7 linked regions of the Homo sapiens genome follow. The protein of the gene in region 5 interacts with the protein of the main gene of each other region in a biochemical or structural test. Each region holds a gene or a part of one and is shown on either strand. Other genes may lie near its edges. The genes, in order: FRMPD1, LIN7A, GRIP2, MFHAS1, RTKN, TJP2 and SNTG2.

Evidence for each region.
Region 1: the proteins of RTKN (region 5) and FRMPD1 interact in a test that uses a peptide from one of them, tested with the Homo sapiens proteins (one large-scale study listed by IntAct).
Region 2: the proteins of RTKN (region 5) and LIN7A interact in a test that uses a peptide from one of them, tested with the Homo sapiens proteins (one large-scale study listed by IntAct).
Region 3: the proteins of RTKN (region 5) and GRIP2 interact in a test that uses a peptide from one of them, tested with the Homo sapiens proteins (one large-scale study listed by IntAct).
Region 4: the proteins of RTKN (region 5) and MFHAS1 form a complex in vitro, tested with the Homo sapiens proteins (one large-scale study listed by BioGRID and IntAct).
Region 6: the proteins of RTKN (region 5) and TJP2 interact in a test that uses a peptide from one of them, tested with the Homo sapiens proteins (one large-scale study listed by IntAct).
Region 7: the proteins of RTKN (region 5) and SNTG2 interact in a test that uses a peptide from one of them, tested with the Homo sapiens proteins (one large-scale study listed by IntAct).

The regions. Positions count from the first base shown.
Region 1 is NC_000009.12:37,702,954-37,706,453, reverse strand, and holds part of FRMPD1 (FERM and PDZ domain-containing protein 1), read right to left. Parts: intron 1-3,500. UniProt on the Homo sapiens protein: Stabilizes membrane-bound GPSM1, and thereby promotes its interaction with GNAI1.
Region 2 is NC_000012.12:80,927,935-80,931,434, reverse strand, and holds part of LIN7A (protein lin-7 homolog A), read left to right. Parts: intron 1-3,500. UniProt on the Homo sapiens protein: Plays a role in establishing and maintaining the asymmetric distribution of channels and receptors at the plasma membrane of polarized cells.
Region 3 is NC_000003.12:14,519,843-14,523,342, forward strand, and holds part of GRIP2 (glutamate receptor-interacting protein 2), read right to left. Parts: intron 3,234-3,500; coding exon 3,158-3,233; intron 1,946-3,157; coding exon 1,800-1,945; intron 1,781-1,799; exon of another isoform or gene 1,352-1,780; coding exon of another isoform or gene 1,303-1,351; intron 696-1,302; coding exon 548-695; intron 438-547; coding exon 268-437; intron 1-267.
Region 4 is NC_000008.11:8,782,854-8,785,630, forward strand, and holds the end of MFHAS1 (malignant fibrous histiocytoma-amplified sequence 1), read right to left. Parts: 3' UTR 501-2,777; downstream 1-500. UniProt on the Homo sapiens protein: Probable GTP-binding protein. Functions in innate immunity and more specifically the inflammatory response as a regulator of the Toll-like receptor TLR2 and TLR4 signaling pathways.
Region 5 is NC_000002.12:74,428,637-74,431,937, reverse strand, and holds part of RTKN (rhotekin), read left to right. Parts: intron 1-1,260; coding exon 1,261-1,322; intron 1,323-1,419; coding exon 1,420-1,473; intron 1,474-1,568; coding exon 1,569-1,686; intron 1,687-1,900; coding exon 1,901-2,110; intron 2,111-2,995; coding exon 2,996-3,090; intron 3,091-3,200; coding exon 3,201-3,301. UniProt on the Homo sapiens protein: Mediates Rho signaling to activate NF-kappa-B and may confer increased resistance to apoptosis to cells in gastric tumorigenesis. May play a novel role in the organization of septin structures.
Region 6 is NC_000009.12:69,222,777-69,226,276, forward strand, and holds part of TJP2 (tight junction protein 2), read left to right. Parts: intron 1-2,527; coding exon 2,528-2,631; intron 2,632-3,245; coding exon 3,246-3,399; intron 3,400-3,500. UniProt on the Homo sapiens protein: Plays a role in tight junctions and adherens junctions. Acts as a positive regulator of RANKL-induced osteoclast differentiation, potentially via mediating downstream transcriptional activity.
Region 7 is NC_000002.12:1,265,349-1,268,848, forward strand, and holds part of SNTG2 (gamma-2-syntrophin), read left to right. Parts: intron 1-2,016; coding exon 2,017-2,223; intron 2,224-2,723; coding exon of another isoform or gene 2,724-2,747; exon of another isoform or gene 2,748-3,500. UniProt on the Homo sapiens protein: Adapter protein that binds to and probably organizes the subcellular localization of a variety of proteins. May link various receptors to the actin cytoskeleton and the dystrophin glycoprotein complex.

The sequences.
Region 1 (3,500 bases), on a different chromosome or scaffold from region 5:
GCTGTCTTGGGACTCTGCGGTTAAGGTCTATCATTTATTCTCATCCATTTACCAAACACTTTCAGGAACCCTGCCTAATGCAATAGGCCCTCACTTATCTGAAAATCATCTCCCTCTCATTTATAATGATCTCCAGTTTCAACAAGGATCCGGAAATATGAAAAACTGTCTCACAGAGCCAAAATGTAAGTGACAAGCACAAGTCCAAAGTCTCGTGTACACTATCCACCAAGGATCCCCCCCAGGCCCTGACTTAGAGCAAATTTAGGATCTGTATGAATAGATGACCCAGCCCACACAACCTAGAAGCAGAGGGAGTCTTTCTTCTAGGCCAGCATGCAGGTAATACTGAGCTGGAGCAGCAGAGAGACCTAATGAGAGGGAAGAAACAGAAAACTGAAAATTCACACTAAATAAAGCCCATAGCTCTTCCTGATTTTTTTTCAATCTTTTATTTATTTATTTATTTATTTATTTATTTATTTATTTATTTTGAGGGAGGGTTTTACTCTGTCACTCAGGCTAGAGTGCAGTGGCATGATCTCAGCTCACTGGTTCAAGCGGTTCTCATGCCTCAGCCTCTTGAGTAGCTGGGACTACAGGCTCGTGCTACCACACCCGGTTAATTTTTTGTATTTTTAGTAGGGATGGGGTTTCTCCATGTTGTCCAGGCTGGTCTCAATCTTCTGAGCTCAAGTGATCTGCCTCTCAGCCACCCAAAGTGCTGGGATTACAGGCAGGAGCCACCGCACCCAGCCTATTCCTGATTTTGTAAAAAACATTTAGAGCTATAAAAAGGTTTTTCTAAATGCAATAAATAACACTCTATACTAAAAGTCAAAAATCAACATTTGACATTACAGGTGCAGTGCCTCATGCCTGTAATCCCAGCACTTAGGGAAGCTGAGGCTAGCTAATCACTTGAGTCCCAGAGCTCAAGACCAGCCTGGGCAACATGGCAATACCCTGTCTCTATTAAAAATACAAAAAAATAGCAGGACTTGGTGGTGTACACCTGTGGTACCAGCTACTCAAGAGGCTGAGGTTGCAGTGAGCTGAGATCATGCCACTGCTCTCCAGCCTGGGTGACAGAGCGAGACTATCTCAAAAACAAACAAACAAACAATTTGGTGTTTTATTTAATGTAGTAGGATAAATGCTAATAATAGTTATCAGGGAAGGAAAAATGACAAGAGGAATAATGAGCACAGGAATGGAAAAGTACCACCTTATTATTTTTTTTTTGTTTTTTAGCAGATGACATTCACACAGAAAATGATGAACAAAGAAAATTTTTAGTGCCAGAAGATAAGTTTAGTGGAGATGCAGGATAAAAACACAAAACACAGCCACAAAAAGGATCAAACAATTCATTAAAAGCAGATTAGCTGAATGTACATTCGGTGTTAGGCATTCTTAATGAGTGAATGCTAAATATCTAGAAAATGCCAAGAAAGGATTCAAGTAACAAAACTAGTGATGTGTACTAATGTAATTCAGGGGAAGAAGGATTTATTTAAAGAAAATAATATAACTTTCCTTAAAGCAATAAAGGAAAACACAATAATTGGGTTAAAGTTATGCTGGGTTCCTGGATGGAAACACTAAGTATCAAAAAAAAAAAAAGTTCTAAATTAAATAGAGATTTAATGTAATATAAATAAAAAATTCTTCCAGATTAAAAAACAACTTGACAAATTGATGGTAATCACAGCAATAACGACAATAATAATTAATAACATTTATGAATACTAACTATATTTTAGGGAGTGATTTAACATTATATATATATATATATCTCACTCAACCCTCAAACTTTTGAGGTGGGTACAATTATTATTCCTGTTTTATAGGTGAAAAGACTAAATCTTGCTCTGAGAGATTTTAACTTGCTTAAAGTCATACAGCTGGGAAGCAGGTTTCAAATTGGGGCTACTTTCTTCAATAGGCACACTAGCACTGCTTCTAGAGCAGTGCGGTCCAAATGAAATATACACACCGCATACGTAAATTTAAGTTTTCTAATAGCTACATAAAAACAGGAAAAAAATAAGTGAAATAAATTTTAATAACATATATTTTATTTAACTCAATATATCCAAAATAGTATCATTTCAACTCGTAGTTAATACAAAAAATTATTGATGAGAGATTTTGCATTCTTTCATATTAAGTCTTCAAAATCCAGGGTCTATTTTACACTTACAGCGCGTATCAATTTGAACTCTAAATTTCTATCAGAAATACTTAGATTTCAGAAAAGTTACAGTTGAAAAGTAAGCACTCCTTTCAGACAAAGGCAATAATCAAAACTGCATAGTGTGGCTTTCACCAATGAAACTGAATAGAAATTCTAGAAAGTCCTTTAAGTGTCTGGAAGTTTCTTAAAAGACTAAACATGGTGTACAACATGATCCAGCAATTGCACTCCTGGGTATGTACCGGAGAGAAATGAAAATAAATGTCTACACAAAAACTTGCACATGAATATTTATAGCAGCATTTTCTGTAAATGTCCAAAAGTGGAAACAACTCGAATGTCCATCAACTAATGACATGGATAAATAAAATACCGTATTCCAGAACAGAATATTTGGCAATAAAAAGGAATGAAACATGGATGAATCTGGCTAAGTGAAAGCCAGTCACAAATGACCACATATTGTATGATTCCATTAACATGAAATATCTAGAACAGACTAATCTATAGAGACAGAAAGTAGATTAGGGGTTGTCCAAGGCTTCAGGGAGGGAGGTTTGGGAGGTTTGGGAGTCACTGCTAATAGGTATAGGTTTCCTTTGTGGGGGATGAAAACCTTCCAAAATGGACTTGTGACAGTTGCAGATCTGTGAATACACTAAGAACCATTGAATTGTACACTTCAAATGGGGGAATTGTATGGTATGTAAATTATCTATCAATAAAGCAGCTGAAAATAAGTAAATTTAAAAAAATCCTGAAGTGGGGAAAGCTTATAATACAAATATATGAAGAATGGGCATAAATACACATAGTAGATACCCACATTTCACATGCTCAAAGCAAGTGAATTGACAACTCTCACATGAAGAAAGCAAGCTGGAAATTAACACAGAAAATGTACAACCTTATCAAAGAAGCACAACTGAAAGGGCTATGGAGTACTATTATGTGTCATACCAAATATGAATAAAAATAATAAGGCCCAACAGGTACTAGTCCTGAGATTAAAGAATGACAATACAAACTGGCAATTCAATCTCTCTAGGAAATCATTGGTGAACCTGTACCATGAATTTAAATTTTAAATTTGATCTTCTGTTACCATTTTGACCGGTATTCCTTGAACTGATGACCACAAAGGAAAAAATATCATATTATTTATCCTGGACCATGAGTTCCTAGAAGACAAGGGTGGTACCCATTCATCTCCATGTCTCCCATGCCTAGTAAAGTTCTAGAACAGAGTATGAGTTCAATAAACCCTGGCTCTTAAGTATTCAAAAATATCAATCTCAGC
Region 2 (3,500 bases), on a different chromosome or scaffold from region 5:
TCCTGACCTCAGGTGATGCGCGTGCCTCAGCCTCCCAAAGTGCTGGAATGACAAGCAAGAGCCACTGCACCCAGCCTGTTTTTTATTTGATAATTAAAAGTTACAAAGAGAATGACTCAAATCTCTAAAGCATTTTGGTTACAAAAATAAGAAATTTGGTGAATCCTTTCTAGTTTGGTGTGTCATTCATCCGAGCCCTGAAATGTATTTGGTGTGCTCCTGTCAGTTATGAAATTAATGCTCTTGCTTATGAGTGTTGTTTTTCAGGGATCACAACTAAGGCCTAGCTCTTAAGTAGAGGAAAGAAAACATCTAGGGAGTACTATCAAACAGGAAGGTGTCCTGGGTATTAGAGATGGTGTTATATGCACAATGCCAGTATCTCTTTGAGTTCTTTTCTTAAAGTCATGACATTTGCCTGTTAGGATATACTTTCCATCAGGTCAGAGACCATGTCGGGTTTGTTTATGTAGAACCCAGCACATTGTGTGGCACATAGTTGGCACGCTCTTTGTATTTGTTGATTGAATGAGTGAATGAATGAATAAAATTGGCTTAGCAAGACTTAGCTGTCATGGATTATTCTTAATGCAACAAAACAAAACAAAACAAAAGCCTTCTAACCTAAAATAATGAAAAGTAGTGGCTACCTTAGGATGTCACTTTGCCTCTCTGTGTATGTAGCTGGCTCCTACAAGTGTAGTGCTCTCAAGGGCCAAGAAAGAATGTGAGGTGTTGGTTTTGATAGTCATAGCCCTGTTTCAGTTGTCTGCATTTACCCTGCTGTTTTAACTTATGAATTGAATCGCACGAGCTAATGTCAGAATACAACTGAAAAGGTTTTTTAAATGGGTGGAGTTGCTATAGAATTGCCCCCCTCCACACACATATATATAAGCTACGCTTTTCAATTTTTTTAACCATAAATACATGAATGACAGAACTATGTCCTAATAAACAAATTAAAATGGATTTAACTTGAACTCACTCTGCACTACCAAATGTGAACTTAACCTTAAAAATTGTGTTAATTTCATCCATGCCTTAGTTCTGGTTTATTCAATTGAGATCTTTAAAAAAAAAGATTGAATTTTGCTAAGTAATATACTAACTGAATTCAAACACTTGTCCAATAAAAATAAATATGCCTGAAAACCACTTGAAAAAAATCATGAGGGATTGAAACTTATTTTGTAGTTATATTCAAGTATCTACCTATCTTGGACATAAAGCTAGGGTGTCTAATTTCCATTGATGGTAATTTTCCTTAGAAACAATATAGCTAGTCCAAGTCTAACTGTTTGTGCAACTTTTGTTTACTTGCCCAGTGTGGAGATAGTTATATTTCAATATAACATCTTTTGTTTTTAAATTAATCAAAGGATTACCTTTAACTAAAAAAAGATAGAATAATGGGAGTCACAACATGGCTATAAGATTTAAACCCACAAGATAGATGGAGAAACATAGCATGAAATCACAGCTGGGTCTATTTAACAATAATGAAGAAAAAATTGGGGAATATAGTTGAGGGACTGCTGAAAGTGATTTTTGAGGAAAATTGGAGAAGAGCAGTAATTGCTGATGGACAAATAACCTGGCTTCCAAAAAGATGACAAAGGTGTTTTGGGAAACTATAGGGCAATCTATTTGTTGCCTCTTGGCCCATATATATATTTTAAAATATATATAAAATGTGTGTGTGTGTGTACATATATATATTTAAAAGAATGAGATATTGGCACTTAGAAAAGAAAGTGGTGATCCCAGAGGCTACGTGGAAAATCACTAAGAGTAGACATTGCAGAAGTTCAGACATATGTCATAGTCTCATTATATATTCATGACCCCACAACTCTCACAGACACCTTGTGGAAAATGTGGAAATACATAAAGTGGATGATTGCATTGTTGGATTTCTAGTAGAAACACTTCTCCAAGGAAGTTTGGTTCATGGTCTTGTTTGGCACTGTTACCAATATTTTGAATGAGCACCATAGAATATATTTTAACAAACTTTACAGGTGACTAAGCTAGGAGGAATAACAAATAATTTGGCCAACCCTACCAATATTCTAAAATTATTCCTAGCTTGAATGGCAGGTTACAATAAAAGAGATAAAATTTAGAGGAAATGAATGTAGCCTTCATTTATTAGATTGAATCAAATTAGAATGCTGATTGCATATTGATTGTACTGGTGTCTGACTGGAATAATCTGGTTTAAGAGTATTTTATTTGGAAAAGATTGAGGACTTTATTTATTAGGTTGGTGCAAAAGTAATTGAGGTTTTTGCCATTGAAGGTAATATCAAAGACTGCAATTACTTTTGCACCAACATAATAATAAATTCATCATGAGCAGTGTGATTAAATTATCAAAATATTATAAAAACTCTCTGGAAAATTAAATATAAAACTAGTTAATATTAATAATGTAGAAAAACACTAATACAGCATACCCTAGCAGGGATTATTTAAAAGATATTAGAATAACTGTATTGGTATATTAATCATGTTAATAATAAGTTTTAAAACATGATGAAAATTAAACTCAATACAATACAAAAATTAACTCAAGATGGATTAAAGACTTAAATGTAAGACCTAAAATCATAAAAAACCCTAGAAGAAAACCTAGGCAATACCATTCAGGGCATAGGCATGGGCAAAGACTTCATGACTAAAACACCAAAAGCAAATGGCAACAAAAGCCAAAATAGACAAATGGGATCTACTTAAACTAAAGAGCTCCTGAACAGCAAAAGAAACTATCATCAGAGAGAACAGGCAACCTACAGAATGGGAGAAAATTTTTGCAATCTACCCATCTGACAAAAGACTAATATCCAGAATCTACAAAGAAACAAATTTACAAGAAAAAAACAAACAACCCCATCAAAAAATGGGAAAAAGATATGAACAGACATTCCTCAAAAGAAGACATTTATGCAGCCAACAGACACGTGAATGTCATCACTGGTCATCAGAGAAATGCAAATCAAATCCACAATGGGATGCCATCTCACACCAGTTAGAATGGCGATCATTAAAAAGTCAGGAAACAGATGCTGGAGAGGATGTGGAGAAATAGGAACACTTTTACACTCTTGGTGGGAGTGTAAATTGGTTCAACCATTGTGGAAGACAGTGTGGCGATCCCTCAAGGATCTAGAACTAGAAATGCTATTTGACCCAGCGATCCCATTACTGAGTATATATCCAAAGGATTATAAATCATGCTACTATAAAGACACATGCACATGTATGTTTATTGCAGCACTATTCACAACAGCAAAGACTTGGAACCAACCCAAATGTCCATCAATGATAGACTGGATTAAGAAAATGTGGCACATATACACCATGGAATACTATGCAGCCATAAAAAAGGATGAGTTGATGTCCTTTGCAGGGACATGGATGAAGCTGGAAACCATCATTCTCAGCAAACTATCACAAGGACAGAAAACCAAACACCGCATATTCTCACTCATAGA
Region 3 (3,500 bases), on a different chromosome or scaffold from region 5:
TATACTCCTATTAATGCAACCAGTGATGAAACCAGCTTTGGGGCATCTATGCCAGCAGACTCAATTCAAACCCTCAAGTTGTTTCTCTGCCCCACCTTCCCACCCTCAGTTGCTGCTCTTAATAATTTGAGCTTCCCTGGGCAAATGAGGATTTGTCCTAGTACATTTTAGCCTGCTCCTCCCAGCCTGCCCAGGGCTCTGGTCCCAGGCCTCTCAGGCCTCATGACTGCCCAGGTTTGGGCCCTGAGATCTACTGAGGGGACCCACCTGCCTCTGAGGGCCTCAGTGGCCGCTGACTCTGGGGCACAGGCAGGATCTCCAGCCGCACCTTCTCTGAAATGCTGGCCAGGAGCTTGGTGGCCTCAAGCAGCGAGCAGTGTTCCATGCTGGTGCCATCGATGGACAGGATGTGGTCTCCAGGGTGCAGGGCTCCGCTCCTGGCCAGGCAGGGGAGTGAAGGCGGAGGCTGGTCCAGGCCAGACAAAGCTCTGGGCCGCCTCTCCCCTGCACACACCTCCATGGTGGCAGCACCCAGGGTGTGCCTTACCTGTCCACCACGCTGGCTGGCTTGATGCGGTCGATGGTAATGACTGACTTGTTCCGGAGGGAGGTGGTGGTGAGCGAGATCCCCAGGGCAGACCCTGGCGTCTTGACTATTTCCACCATCAAGGGTCCCGAAGCATTAGCCACCGTGTCTGGCATGACGGAGAAAAAAAGTTTGAAATGCAAATACCGAGCACTTTCCTCCCCAGCCTCACCCTGCTATCCTGATTTAATCCTTGCTGCCTGGAAGAAACTGTTATACCCATTTGATTAACATAATTTTTTATTCCTTTTCTTTCTTTTTTTATCTTCTACCAAATGTTATATCAATTTGACAGATAAGATAGCAGTGGAGGAGGGGCAGGAGCTCAGGTCTGAGGGGCTGTGATCCCAGGGCTTTGCTGGGTGAAATGAATTTGCTTGAGTTTATGAAGAGCCTGTGGTATACCAGCACTAAACTGTAAAGTTCACTACAACCCATCCCCATCTCAGGAAATGGCACCTCCATTAACACACCCAGTGGCTGGAAATTAAAACTTTGGCCGCACCCTTAGCTCCTGCCCTCGCCCACCCATGTCTAAATCTCAGCAGATCAGGCCAGCTGGACCGTCATCATATTTCCTGAATCCCGTGCCTTCTCCCCTCCTTAGCCACCAGCCTGGTTCAGTCCCTTAGCTCTCGCTTGGACAGCTGCTGCCGCTTCCTATGGCCTCCCGGCTTCCACCTCACCCTGCTCTGCCCTTACCTCCTTTCACTCACCTGTGCCAACCACGGCAGCCTCCTCACTGTGACCAACCATGCTGGCCATGCTCCTGCCTCAGGGCCTTTGCACTTACTCTTCCGCCCTCCTGGAATGCTGTCCCTGGACATTCCATGCCTCGCTCATTCCCTCACTCCCCTAGTGAGAGAGCATCCCCCAGCCTGTCCCATCTCTCTCCCCTGCCTCTTTTCTTTTTTCCATAGCACTTATTGCCAACTGACATACACCATATCTTATCTATTCTGGATACTGTCCTCTCTCCACCAGAATGCCAGCTCCATGAGAACAGACACCTCAATTCTGTTGTTCTAGGCTGGATCCCCAGCACATCAAACAATGCCTAGCACATACTATTTACTGCCCAGAGAAGCTGTGACTGGCCCAAGGTCATAAGGTCATGCAGCCTTTGCAGTGGTAAAGATCCATGGCCACTGCCACCTCCCCCCATCCCAGGCCTCCTCCTGCCCCAACCCACACACTCAGGCCCCCAACTCACCAGGGGTGGCCACATCATACTCCACCTGAAAGAGTGCCTCGTGGCTGCACTGCCGCAGGGTGGCCAGGGCGGTGGCATGGCTGGCCCCGTGCAGCGGGATTCCATCGACACTGAGCAGCCTGTCGCCCACCTTCAGGGAGCCCTCCCTGTAGGGAAGGGCCAGTCACCAGCCTGGCCCGGCAGCAGCACTGGGCACAGCCTGTCTGGGAGGGCGCTGGGAAGCGGGACATGGAGGATGAAGAAGCAGGGAATGGGTGGGGGAGGAAGGGGAGGAGGGGACGGGTGAAGGGGCGCATGAGTGAGTGAAGGAATGAGCCACTCCAGGAGTGGGGAGCTGCATAAAGCAAGGGGGGGATGAAGACAGGATGGGGTGGCTCTGCCGCCTGCCACTCCTCTGGGTGTGCAGTAATTCACAGACTCAGTGCAGAACCCTGAAATGTCTGAGCTGGGGGTGCTCTTCAAGCGTCACCCCCAACTCCTGCCTCAGGGACAAAGGACAGCACCAGGGCCCAGAGAGGGTGCAAGCTGTGCCCATGCCACACGGCATTGGGGGCTGCTCTGAGCCGTCCTGGTCCCTTCCCATTGCTCCACCCTCACCCTGGTTTCTCAGCGGTGATTCTGGCCTGATGACAACCCGCGCCTGGGAAAGAACTCAACAGGGGCCAGGGGAGGGGCCCCAGCAGGGTTCACCTCGGTTTGGGTCGCATCCCCAGCCTGGAACGCCTCTCCCAACAGGTGGCCAAAGCTATTCTCGGGGGTTCTATGAATAGCTCATCACAGGGCCCTGTCCCAAGGACAGATTTAGATTTCTGACAAGGCCGTTCCAGGCTTCTCTTAAAATGGCCAGGAATCTCCCACTGGGGAGGCCGAGGGATCAGGGGCTGGGAACTGGACATGTTCTTTCCCCACATTCTCTCCTCCTGGCCCTTCTGGGCTGGGCCCAGGCGGGGCCGAGCTGGGTCGATCAGCCAGGACCCAGGAGACTGAGTCACAGACGGCTACAGCAGTGGCCAATCAGCGTGCCCCCAAATCTCTCATAGCAACTCTTAGGGACCATTCCACAGACGGGAAAACCAAGGAGCAGGAAAGGGAAGAACGACACCAAGGCTGCCCCTCTCCAAACACCCCAACCCCTGAGACAGCAGTATGTTGGGGAAGAAAGGGCTCGAGGTTTCCCTCATTTGGGGTTACATCCCGGTTCCATCAACAACTCCCTGAATGACACCGGGCAGGGAGTGTTCCCTCAGGGCCTCGATCTCTTCATCTGGGGAAGGGGCATGGTGACCCCACTCCACCTTCTTCGCAGGGGAGTTGGGGCAGGTCAGTGCAGTGTGTGGATTTCTTCTGCCTCGGCTCACCTGTCGGCAGGGCCACCGGGCCGCACGTAGGTCAGGACAAGCGGGCGGGACTTGTGCCCATCTTCATGGGCACCTCCTGGACAGGATTTGACAAGAAGCAGGAATCATCCACCCACCCCTTCCCATCCAGAGGCTCCCACACAGCCCCTGAGCAGGCTCCTTCAATAAAACCTGTTTGAGGACCTTGTCCTTGCTATCCATGGACCCTCTTATGAGACACCAACAATAAATTCGCCCTCCCAAGAGATGGTGCAAGGGGTGGGTAACATGACCAAAGTCTTCTCTCTGTTAAATGGCTTGCCTCCCTTCTGTGACCTCACCTTATTTCCCCTTTTCCCTGATC
Region 4 (2,777 bases), on a different chromosome or scaffold from region 5:
CACGTTAACACCCTGGCTTTGGTCCTTCCTTATCTTCTCTTTGCCTTTATTTAAACAATATGGAGTACTAAATCCTCTGATGGGTACCTGAGGGGCCTGCTCTTCCAGTTTGCAAATAGGGCACCCTGAGGCAGTATGTAGCAGGACTTCTGCTAAGAGCCTTTGAAAGAAAGATCAGGGGAACTTCCAAAGCTACCATAAATTCAACAGCTGTGACTTAGGAATATAGTGGATCATTGAAAAAAAAAAAAAGATTCTGATTTAAGAGAGCTGATCTTCAAGTTATATCCTCAGCCTGAAAACAGAGGCAGTTTTAAAACAGGGATTCTTTAGTTTTCTCTTCGGAGACCAAACAGATGAGAGCTACCACCACCCACCTCCCACAGCTCCAACAGTACCACTAAGGACTAAAACTATAAAAGTCATTCCTTAACTGATAGAATTAAAAGTAAAAACAAATGAACAAAATCTGAAATAATTAAGTTCTGGGAATACAACTGTTTAACCATTTCTTTGTATTTTTATTGATTTTTCTTTTTTAATTTCTGCCCAGTTACAACAACGAAATGGGAAACCACAATTAAAATTCACAAACCATGGCATGAAAAACAACACGCACCCCATCAGGAATTACACCAAACCCCTTTTCCTTTTTATTCATTCAAAAGAGAGTCCAATACACAAGTGTCAAATATGAGCACTGTCATTTTTTTTTTCTTAGAAGGGGGAAAAACATTTATTTTGGCAGTGCTTTGACAATTCCAGGAAGTGGTTTTGATACCACAAGTTGCAGGAATAGAAACCCTAACAAACTTGGAGGGCATTTGTTTGAGAGGCAAGGGACGCCTTGCTTAGAAAACATTCCTCTTGTGCTTAGTGAATCACCTATCGCCTCGGTGGGCTGCTGTGTCTTTCCAGGTGCTGAAAGAGAAAACGGAATTTCTTGCATAGACAGCTGAAGAGTCCTGTAGAGCAGAGTGATTTTTGTATCTCCAACCCTCCTCCCAACTTGAAACAAATTCTCAAGCTTCTCTGGAGCATCTTTTGGTCACATGACCCTCGATCATGGTAACCCTTTTGCTAAGACACATGTGACACCAAGGTTTCCTCTGACACTGCTTCTCTAGGGTTCAGATGACAGCATAAAACATCACTGGTCAAAAATATTAGATATTAAGAATGTGGGCGTTTATGTTCGTAACAGCAAATACTTTGTAGGGTGTGTCACCCAAAGGAGCATTTTTGTCATTTAATATGGTCCCCGGGGAGTTAGCCCAAAATCATACAAATAAGCCTTTTTCTAAAGACAGGTCAAAGTTGGTTAATTTAACAGTTGAGGAACCGTCTCATGCCAATTAAAAAATTCTTACTTCCCAACTATTCAATGGTCCAAAAAGCAATTAAATGTGACCATTCAGTTTTACACACATGCACACACACACACACGGAGACGCGCACACACACACGAGAACTGTGACAAAAGGATTCACCAGATTAATCTTGTGACTGTGTTCTAAAAGAAAATGAAATCTCAAACTTGAGGTGTCCTATTCAAGTATTAAAAAAATGCAAACATCGTCTGATCCCATTCGATTTTTATCATCATAAGAAATCATTCTCTGAACTGCAGGTTCTGGAGTCAGTGAAATTAATGCCTGGGGCACAAAATATTCTACAAAAATCGGTTTGTGATTTCTAGCAGGGCAGTCGCTTGCTCCTTATTTCTTTTAAAAAACATGTTGAGACTTTGTATACTGTAGCCTTCCAAGAGTCAATACTTTACAAAAGAAGTAAAAGAGTAGCGAGTACCAGCAACTCACTCTTCTTGTCTGAGGCTGGCGAGAAGCAGTCAGTTTTATACATTTTCGATCAACCCACGGAGGAGGCAAATGTAAACAGAGTTTTTTACACTCTCCGAAAAACATGTTACTACTGTAGCATATGCTGTTTGGCCCAATTAAAAGTAGAATGGAGAGCAATTTGTTTGGTTGGCTTTTTAAGTTTTACCTTGTGAAGATTTTAAAACAAGGGTATTACTAGTTCTTGGCAGGAGACCGTCCAATCAGAGGCTCTGTATTTATAAATAACCCGTGTGGGATTATGCTCTCCAGTGAATGTAACTGGAGCCTAAATTCACAACCTTAAGATCTGACAGCCAGATGTGGAAGGTCTACAAAGAGCTCTGCTAATAAGTAATATGTTTGCAAAGTGCTCTGCTAAGTAAGGTACTTATTAAGCAGAGCACTTTGTAAGATTCAGAACTGACTCCTGATTATCTTAAGCCATTAAAAGACTCAAGTTTTGCATGGACTTTTTGTCCTCTTTGGCCCCTGAGTGTGCCCCATCTCTGCCCAGCACTAATAACACGTTGGAAGAGCAAAGGATTTCCCACCAGCGTGCCAGATGATTTATATAGGCAGGGACCTTCATTGAAAAGAAGGGAAGGGACACTGTCTTAAATGCACATTTAAGGTTCTTTCTGATTATTGGCAATCTCTATGAACCAACACTTAATCCATGGGCTAACAGAGAGATTTTTTTTTTAATGTGAAGAGGATTAAAGAATAAAGAAAAAACAAAAAAGTCTTATACTAAAATAAGAAATCAGCCCCATCTTGGCACAGTTCTCATGCAGAATATTGCACCCAGTGTGAACTAACGCTAGAAGCTTCAAACTGTATAAATTTAAATGTATTTGCATATTATAAAAATAAAGATAAACATATACATATTTTACACTAGTTATGGAACAGCAATGAACGTCAGTCGATCCCTCT
Region 5 (3,301 bases):
TAGACTGTTGATCTGACAAGTCTATAATGACTTAAGTGATGCCATGATAAAACCAAAATATTGGGGAAAATATTTGGCAAATTATTCTAAGAATATGCCAATTTGGATAAAGTGGTCATTTGGAGAACTGGTTTTTAGGAAAGTGGCCTACTTACTCCACTGAGGCTGCTAGGGGAAATAGTCCCAGCCCCTCACAGGTATGGTGCCCATTCCAGCCATGAAGGCTGACACAAGAGGAGGTTGCCAGGAGCTCACCCATGAAGCTACCAGAAGAAGGCAGAAAACCCACTGTATGGCTATCCCATGAAGCTAGAGGAAGGGCAAGCTGGTGGGGGGACAGCCTCTGAGAGGCAGCATGGACAGACTCTGTCCTGCCAAAGTCCTCACACAGCCCACACAGGTGATTTGAGGTACACCCCAAGTGCCTGGCAGCTAAACACATTGCCATTAGTGCCACATCATTTAGCTTAAGGCTCTACTAAGTCAGTAATTACTTTAGTGGCATTATGAGTAAGTACAGATGAACTGGCAGTCGCTTCAGGAAAGGGACACATGGTGAGTCCTGATGATGGGCAGGGAGGGAAGGAAGGTGGGGTGTCGGGCCCTGCAGTGGGGTGTGGGGGAGCTGCAGAACTTGGGGCACTAGTAGGGTACACCATATCAGGCCAGGAGGAAAAAGGAGAAATCAAAGTTGGGGAGTGGTAGGGAAGGAAAAGGGTCTGTAGTGAATGGAACGTAACTCTTCCCTATTGGTGATTTTCCTTTGAACAAATGTTGGCCAAATTATTTTCTGACCCAGTACCCTCCTATATCAAAGAAGTGATGGGATGGTGGGAAATAAGCAGCTTTCCTATTGTTAAAAAAAAAAAAAATAAAGACTGGAGACCCCTCTAAGCCAGGGGTTTAATGGAGAGCCCTGGAAATGAAGTCTTTCTGTGGGCACCTGTCCCCTCAAGGCTGCACCTGTCCTTGGCAGGGATCTGGAGAGGTGGTCAGGGAGGTTGCTTGGAGAGAGGAGCCCTGAGCTTGTGCCTTATGTGTGAGTTAATGTGGCTTGAGTGTCCCTGGTGTCCCCAAGCCTGGCAAACTGCTGGGTTCAATGAACAACTTTCCCTTATAGTCCCTCAGCCCTGCCTGTCGGCCTGGCTGGGAACCTGGTGGCTGAGGCGCTGGGATCAGGGGGATCCTAGAGTCGTTGGGACCAGAGCAAGGGGGAATAGTGGCTAGAGGCCAGGCCAGGACATTGTGATTTATCCACAGGCCTTCTGACAGTGGCCCGCCCGCTGAGCGCTCCCCCTGCCGCGGCCGGGTCTGCATCTCTGGTAAGAAGCACAGCTACCCCAGCTGCTGGTACCCCTTGCCCAAGCACACGGCCTCCTGCCCCATCTCAACATCTATTCTTACCCCTCTGCCCCTTAGACCTCCGGATTCCACTCATGTGGAAGGACACAGAATATTTCAAGAACAAAGGTGGTGAGTTCCACACACCCTGGGACAAATTCAGGGGAATGACCCTGAAGTAGGAGGCTCTCGTGGGACGTGTTTTTTGTTTTGCCCTTTGTCCCCAGACTTGCACCGCTGGGCTGTGTTCCTGCTGCTGCAGCTGGGGGAACACATCCAGGACACAGAGATGATCCTAGTGGACAGGACCCTCACAGACATCTCCTTTCAGAGCAATGTGCTCTTGTGAGTACCTCACACTGTGGCTACCTCCTTCCTCCACTCTGCTCCAGTTCTGGATGAGCGAGTTCCAGGGGAGGAAGCTGGGATGGGGGCAGGGTGGAGAGGAGGGGCACCTGGCCTTCTCTGTGGAGCTGTCCTGCACTTGCCTCACCCACATCCCCTACCCTCTGCCTCCCTGGACTTTCCTGTGACCACCCTCCTTTCTTCCTCCCACCAGCGCTGAGGCGGGGCCAGACTTTGAACTGCGGTTAGAGCTGTATGGGGCCTGTGTGGAAGAAGAGGGGGCCCTGACTGGCGGCCCCAAGAGGCTTGCCACCAAACTCAGCAGCTCCCTGGGCCGCTCCTCAGGGAGGCGTGTCCGGGCATCGCTGGACAGTGCTGGGGGTTCAGGGAGCAGTCCCATCTTGCTCCCCACCCCAGTTGTTGGGTAAGGCCTTGCACACCGACACCACCCTCAGCTGCCTGTATTCTGCCCACAGGTGACCTTTGAACTGTGTTGAGTGTGCAGAACCCATTTTGCATTGCTGCCAGGATGTGCAGACAGATATGAATGAGCAGTGGCCACGTAGCTGGGAGGCATTCCAGCCCACGCCCCAGAGCTGGGCTGAAGCCAGTCCAGAAGACCAGTGGGAAGGCAGGGAGACTTAGGCCCTGGGGTCTTACCTTTTTAGCAGCAGCAAATACATTTTATTTTTAGAGACAGGGTCTCACTATGTTGCCCAGGCTAGTCTCGAACTCCTGGGCTCAAGTGATCCTCCCGCCTCGGCCTCCCAAAGTGGTAGGATTACAGGCGTGAGCCACAGCACTCAGCCTAGCAAATACATTTTATGTGGATAGAGCAGAGCTTCTTGGTTGGAGCAGAGTACCCTGGGACCTATGGTGGTACCTAAATGCACCTGGAGACACCGCATGGGACCACTGAGACTCTGAGAAGCAGTTTGAGAACCTTTGGGTAGTGAACAGAATACTGATTTTGGACATAGATATGGGTTCAAATTCAAACTCCCCCACTTTCCACCTATAAATTATGGGCAAGTTTCTTAACCTCTCTAAGCCTCAAGCTGCCTCATCTAGTTGAAGAATGCCACCAACCTCACAGGGCTGTCATAGGAATACAGTGGGATAAAACATATAAAGCATACGTCCTGACACTTAGCTGGAGCTCGGTAAATGTTCATTCCTAACCCTCTGGGGAGGCAAGCGAGTTTTCTGTGGGGCAGTCTGAACAATGGGGCAGATCTGCTCAGCCCTTAGAGTTCCTGCTGGCCAACATGCCCCTCCCTTGGCTGATGCTCTCTCCTATCTCCCTCAGTGGTCCTCGTTACCACCTCTTGGCTCACACCACACTCACCCTGGCAGCAGTGCAAGATGGATTCCGCACACATGACCTCACCCTTGCCAGTCATGGTAAGTATGTGTGTGCATGGGGGACATACACATGTGATGGTGAGAAGAGGGGCTGTGGGATGGTCCCCTTCTCATTCCCCTACCTCACCCTGCACTTCCTCCTCCCCCAGAGGAGAACCCTGCCTGGCTGCCCCTTTATGGTAGCGTGTGTTGCCGTCTGGCAGCTCAGCCTCTCTGCATGACTCAGCCCACTGCAAGTGGTACCCTCAGG
Region 6 (3,500 bases), on a different chromosome or scaffold from region 5:
CATGGGGTGGAGCCGGGTGCAGTGGCTCACACCTGTAATCCCAGCACTATGGGAGGCCGAGGTGGGCGGATGACTTGAGGTCAGGAGTTGGAGACCAGCCTGGCCAACATGATGAAACCCCATCTCTACTAAAAATGCAAAAATTAGGTGGGCGTGGTGGTGGGTGCCTGTAATCCCCACTTCTCTGGAGGCTGAGGCAGGAGAATAGCTTGAACCCCAAGGGGCAGAGGTTGCAGTAGCAGAGATCATGTCACTGCACTCCAGCCTGGGTGACAGAGCGAGACTCTGTCTTGAAAAAAAAAAAAAAAAAAAAAAGAAACCATGGGGTGGGCCCTCAGAGTCTCTATGTTAATAAGCTCTCCTAGTGGCCTTGCTGCATCTCAAGTGGAAAACCACAGTGGAGGACAGTACTCCGCCTAATCATTGTTGAGTTTCTGCTCTATGCAAGGGCTATGTTGAATATTCTTTTACGTAGTCCTCACAAGAACCTTGTGTGTTAGGAGGCTTCGTTTCTGTTTTGTTTTGTTTTGTTTTGTTTTGTTTTGTTTTGAGACGGAGTCTCGCTCTTTCGCCCAGGGTGGAGTGCAGTGGCGCGATCTCGGCTCACTGCAGGCTCCATCTCCCGGGTTCACACCATTCTCCTGCCTCAGCCTCCCAAGTAGCTGGGACTGTAGGCGCCCGCCACCACACCCGGCTAATTTTTTGTGTTTTAAGTAGAGACGGGGTTTCACCGTGTTAGCCAGGATGGTCTCGATCTCCTGACCTCATGATCCGCCCACCTCAGCCTCCCGAAGTGCTGGGATTACAGGCGTGAGCCCCCATGCTTGGCCAATGAGTGCATTTTTTAAGAGGATTGAGGAATTGTTGAAAAATGCCAGAGAGATGTTATCACTCAAGCTTGTCTCACTCAGCCTTCTGTTCTGGGCTGTGAGGCTGTTTGACCACTAGGGGCTCGCCATCCATGAAAGTAGCTTTGCCCTTCCCTTATTCCATTCTTGACTATCAGCTTCCTAAAGGACTAGGGCATGGGCCACAACACTTCTAATCTTTGTGGTAAGATCTGGCTGACAAGTTTACCGTAAATCATTTAAAACTTATTTTAAAATTGACTTCATACCTTTCCTGAATTGTGGAAAGTTACTTTGTTTTGTAATTATAAGATTTTTAGTTTGAACAATAATAAAAAATTTTGTGCCTGTTTTAAAACCTGCTCTGTTGTGGTAGTTTCCTAAAATGTGAACAGTTATTCTTAAAATAATGTATTTTTACAAGTTTATTAAGTAAAACCAGAAGAGTCTTAAGTAGCATTGAAAGTATTTAAAAATATGCATAACTTAGTAATTACAATGTTTTTGTTTTTGATAGCAATTCAGAGTCCATAAACTCCCAAAGCTATGCTGGTTTTAGTTGAATGCTTTATTAATTACTTTGCCTGACTTCTTTACCCCTTTTCTTCACCCACTGAATTCCTTTCAATGCCAAGCTTCATATAATCTAAAATGCTAGATTTTTTGCAGTGCCTTCCTGTAGACAGCCTCATTGTCAGCAGAACATGCCTATTAAGGTGTGCTGAATTGTTTTTTTTTCTCCCCAACATTTTATTTGAAAAGTGTTAATTTGGCCAGGCGCAGTGGCTCACACCTGTAATCCTAGCACTTTGGGAGGCCGAGGCGGGTGGATCACCTGAGGTCAGGAGTTCGAGACTAGCCTGGCCTACATGGTGAAACCCTGTCTCTACTAAAATACAACAATTAGCTGGGCATGGTGGTGGGCACCTGTAATCCCAGCTACTTGAGAGGCTGAGGCAGGAGAATCACTTGAACCTGGGAGGCAGAGGTTGCAGTGAGCTGAGATCATGCCCCTGCACTCCAGCCTGGGTGACAAAGCAAGATTCTGTCTCAAAAAAAGAAAGAAAAAGAAAATGTTAATTTTATAGCAAATAAACATATAACCTTCATCTAGTTTTACCAGTTGTTAACATTTTGCCACACTTTCTTTTTCCTCCTCCTTTTTTTTTCTTTCCTTCTACTCCATCACCCTTCCTGTTACCTCTCTCAGTGGGTTTTTTGGTACTATTTAAGTAAGTTGCAGGCAACTCACCATTACCCATAAATATTTCAGAGGTATCTTCCAAAGATAAGAACATTCTCCTACATCAGTCACCGTAATACCATTATAACACTTAAGAAGATTAACATTAATATCCCTTTCATATATTATAGTTCATTTTCAGATTGCTCCAAATGATGTAACTCATTCTTCCCCCACCCTCCACTGGATCAGGGACCTATGGTAGTTCATGCATTGCATTTGGTTTTTATGTAACTTTTAATCTGGAACAGTTTCTCTACCTTTTTTGTTTTTTATGGCATTGACTTTTTTGAAGAGTTCAGGCCAGTCATCTTACAGAATTTCCCATATACAAAATTAACTTTTTAATACATATTTTAAAATAGTCCTATAAACCAGACTAAGTTTTTTGAACAAATTGATAACATACGTGTATGTTTATGTGTTTGTCTCCTAGAGTATGGTCTCCGGCTTGGGAGTCAGATCTTCGTAAAGGAAATGACCCGAACGGGTCTGGCAACTAAAGATGGCAACCTTCACGAAGGAGACATAATTCTCAAGGTGGGTAGATGGGGGCAGAGAACGGTAGTGTGCATACTGCCGTTCATCGCCTGCATGTCCACATTCAGCACCCACACAGTGAGACTTAGATCCAGTGAGAGTCAGTGGTAAGACAGAGGTGGCAAGAGCAGCATAATGAGACGATTTTTATCAGAAAAACCAGACATTGAGGGTCGTAACAGTTTAATGTCAGTTTAGAAAACAAAAACAAAAAAACTCCATGAATATTTTCTTCTTTCCTGTTTAAAGTTTAGATCCCTATTCCCTAAACTAAGGAAAGATGAGAAGGAAAGTTGGTGATATATGAATGCTGAATATTTAATAGGTCTTGTAAACCTCTCCAGTCAGGAAACACGTTCCAGTAGTAAACCAAACCGTTGTCTTGAGCTTGGAAGTTAAATAAATTAGCAGAGTAACTTACACCTGTATTTGGGATCCAGGCATGCAGGATTATATTTAATTTAAACGACAATTCATTTTTATTGAGTCATCCTAAAGCCAATATCTGTTTGAATATCTGAGCAAAGCCTTTACATTTTTAGAAGGGGAAAATATGAATTTTCTACTGTGAATAATTTTATTGCATTTAACATTACCATTTTTTATAAACACAGATCAATGGGACTGTAACTGAGAACATGTCTTTAACGGATGCTCGAAAATTGATAGAAAAGTCAAGAGGAAAACTACAGCTAGTGGTGTTGAGAGACAGCCAGCAGACCCTCATCAACATCCCGTCATTAAATGACAGTGACTCAGAAATAGAAGGTAAAGGAAGAGGAGGCTGTGAGCTTAGCTGGAAGTAAGGAAGGCTGTTGCTTCCCCATTCTTCTATTTAGTGTAGCTATCCAGCTGGAAGTTAAATTTCT
Region 7 (3,500 bases), about 73 Mb from region 5:
CACACATTCATGTTCACATACATTTCCACACATACACATGTTCATGTGTGCACACACATTCTCATGTGCACACATACACACACACATGTTCTCACGTGCACACACCACAAGGCATTTGATGTCTGGATGATGCACAGGGATAAATGTGCAATGCTCTCCATGATCAGAGGGTCATCCTGCAGAGCCATCTGCGGGGCCAGGAGAGCCAGGGCATCCCCCCGGAGAGTCCAGAAGGCCCACCTGAGACACACCAGTCGTAGCTTTTACCTCAAACCTGTGCCTAGAGTGCATGTGTCAGCATATTTCAAGTAAAACTATTTGGCCAACTGCTGAGTTCATGTGGATTTTGGGACTGGACCTTGAGCGTAAGTGTGAGTGGGGACTGTCCAGCTTGGCTGGTTGGCACAAGTGAATGGAGATATCTCAGAATCATGATGGGAAGACCCAGCAGGTGGGCAGCTCCCCTTCCTTTCTGCTGCCATATGCAGGGCTGTGGGTGAACACCACATTCTCATTCAGGACTTTGGAAACCCCAGCCCAGGTGTCTCCCCTTGTTTCCCTTCACTGGGGAGAGACTGGTGCAGCAAAATTGATGTTGGGGTGCAGCGTCCCAGGAAGGTGTCTGGTGGGGGCTCTTCAGGGTGGATCTGTGGACCAGTAAATGAATGGGTGAGCTGAGAACTGAGGTGGGTCCAGAGAGAGACAGACAGAGACAGAGAGAAGGATAGAGAGAGACAGAGAAACAGACATAAAATAGAGAAACAGAATGACAGAAATGGAGAGAGAGAAAGAGACACAAAGAGAGACAGAGACATAGAAATGGAGACAGAGAGAGAGAGAGAGACAGACAGAGACAGAGAGGTGCCAGCCAGGTATTGAGTGCGCGTTCACCATGCACCTCCATGCTGTTGACCTAGTAATTGTGACAACTGGGACCCCCAGTCTTTCTCTTCTGCCCTTGATAAAATGAATCCCGAAGTGGGGTGCAACCTTGCAGATGGGGGAAAGAAGTGGGGAGCTCCCCAGGCTGCTCCATGCAGCACAGGCTGGCAGCATCCGAATCGCCGAGTGATTAATAGACGTGCTGTAAGTAACTTACATCTCTGGGTTAAACGATTAACCAGAAATGGAACAACATCATTACATCATTCCCTTTGTCAGGCCTTTGGGTTGGCAGAATGAGCTCCTGGGTGGCCGGGTGCCTTGTCATGCTTCAGAGGCGTTTTGGGCACTCGGTCCTTTATCTCAGGACAATGAACCCGCAAGGAGAGGAAGAGCCAGTAATTCTATAGAGACTCGGAGGCGCAGGGGGCACGCTTAGTTAGAGTGGTGGTGGTATTTTCAGTGTTTTCTGGTTTTATGATAAACACAAGCATCAATGTCTCAAGACTTTCATCTTTATCTTTTTTTTTTTTTTCTTGAGACAGGGTTTCCCTCTGTCACCCAGGCTGGAGTGCATTGGTGGTGTGATCTTGGCTTTCTGTAACCTCGGGCTTCTGGGCTCAAGCCGTTCTACTACCTCAGCCTCCCAAATAGCTAGAACTACAAGCGTGTGCTGCCACACCTGGCTAATTTGTTGTATTTTATTTATTCATTTATTTTTGTGAAGACAAGGTCTTGCCATGTTGCCCAGGCTGGTCTCAGACTCCTGGGCTCAAGCAATCCACCCACCTTAGTCTCCCAAAGTGCTGGGATTACAGGCGTGAGCCACCACACCCAGCTTCATCTTTCTCTTCACCGTAAAACAGGAAAGTGTGTGGTGACCAGTATTTTAAGGGAAAGGCACTTACAGAGAATTAAGCATTTGACAAAATTTATTTACAGATATTTGTCTGTGGACCACTTCCGCACCAGCTGTGCATGAGAGGGCTCATTGCTCTGAATTTGCCTCCTTGTCTGCACCCAGGAGACCGTTTCCCAGATCACGCAAACGCTGCCTTCTCCCCACACCAGGGCCCTCAGCATGGGAATGACCTTCCAGCGCTGCACGTTTCCAATCCATGCTCTGTTTTTCAGTTCTGGCTCACAGAGGACTGCTGGTTGCAAGCAAACTTGTATCTGGGTCTTCAAGATTTTGACTTTGAGGACCAGAGGCCCTATTGCTTCAGCATCGTGGCCGGCCATGGGAAGAGCCATGTTTTCAACGTGGAGCTTGGCAGCGAGCTGGCCATGTGGGAGAAGTCCTTCCAAAGAGCCACGTTCATGGAAGTTCAGAGAACCGGGGTAAGTGAACAACTCACACTCTTCTCACCTACACCTGCTCGGGTGTCTGAGACATAGCATTGGGGAATATGTAGCAGTTTATCGGGGGAAAAGAGGAATCTTCAGAAGGTGAGAATCTTTCACCGGAGCTACTGTGTGGAAATGATCGTTCGCACGGAGTCATGCGCTCCGTGGATAAATATGAGCTGTAGTGGAAGGGAAGGGGAGGAGAGGATTTTGTGTCTGTGTCTACATTGAATGTGAGGAACGGGCTGCATCGCTTTCCAGGAAGGGACTCCACCGATGTGGCGCTCAAGTTCCTGAGAAGTGATGACACTTCTAGCCTGTGCTCCGGGAGACAGAACACCTAGCTTACAAATGAGTATAATGTGTCGTGCAGTTACTTGGATGTTTGTAATATTTTAAGGCACTTTAATGGTTCTTCCTCTCAAACTTGATGGTCCGAAGGAGAATATAAAACAGCTTGTGTGTCTGAATTGCTTTTCTCTTCCTGACAACAGCAAATACATCACTCACAAATTTGAATGTATACCATGTGAAGGGATGAGGAAGAATGCATTATAATCCTCCTTATCCTAAATAGCGGGATGATCCTTCAGGGAGGATGTGTGCTGCAGGAATGAAGAGTGACAGGAGATAAATGAGGCAGCGCATCCCAGAGGAGCTCTGACTTCACACCAAAGTCCAGGGCTCCCGCCTGGCTGAGCGCGGAGAATGCTGAGTGTGAACTTAGTAACTAAAGATGGCTACTTCATTTAAATATACATATATACCTTGAATGTGAAACTATTCTGTGTTATTTATCTTTCATTCACGTTGTCAAAATGTATCCAGGCTCCTTGGCATGCCATCACAGAGCACGAAGCTTCCCTGTAACTAATGCACACTGAGATCTCTTAGTCCACAGAATGAAGTCACACCCAGATCTTCATAGAAACTGATGCCAATGTTTATTCTCATTTATCCCAGGCTGCTGTGATTTTCCCCTCAAATTGGGCACCCTAAATTGGAATTATGGTTGATTCCTGATGCTTAAAGTAACCTTTATATTTGAAGCATCCAATTCATTAACCATTATAGAACATTACATGCTGGAAAGAAAATTACTAAACATAGGATCCTTCATCTCAGGGACTTACTCAAATGTATAGTGGCATTTAGCCACTTAGAAACCATCAGCACTAAAGGTTCAAGTCGTTAAAAGGCAAAGTGAAAGAGCGTTTCTGGGACAAGGTGACCTTTCTGCTTGTTTTCTTTAGATGATAGCAGTAATCATT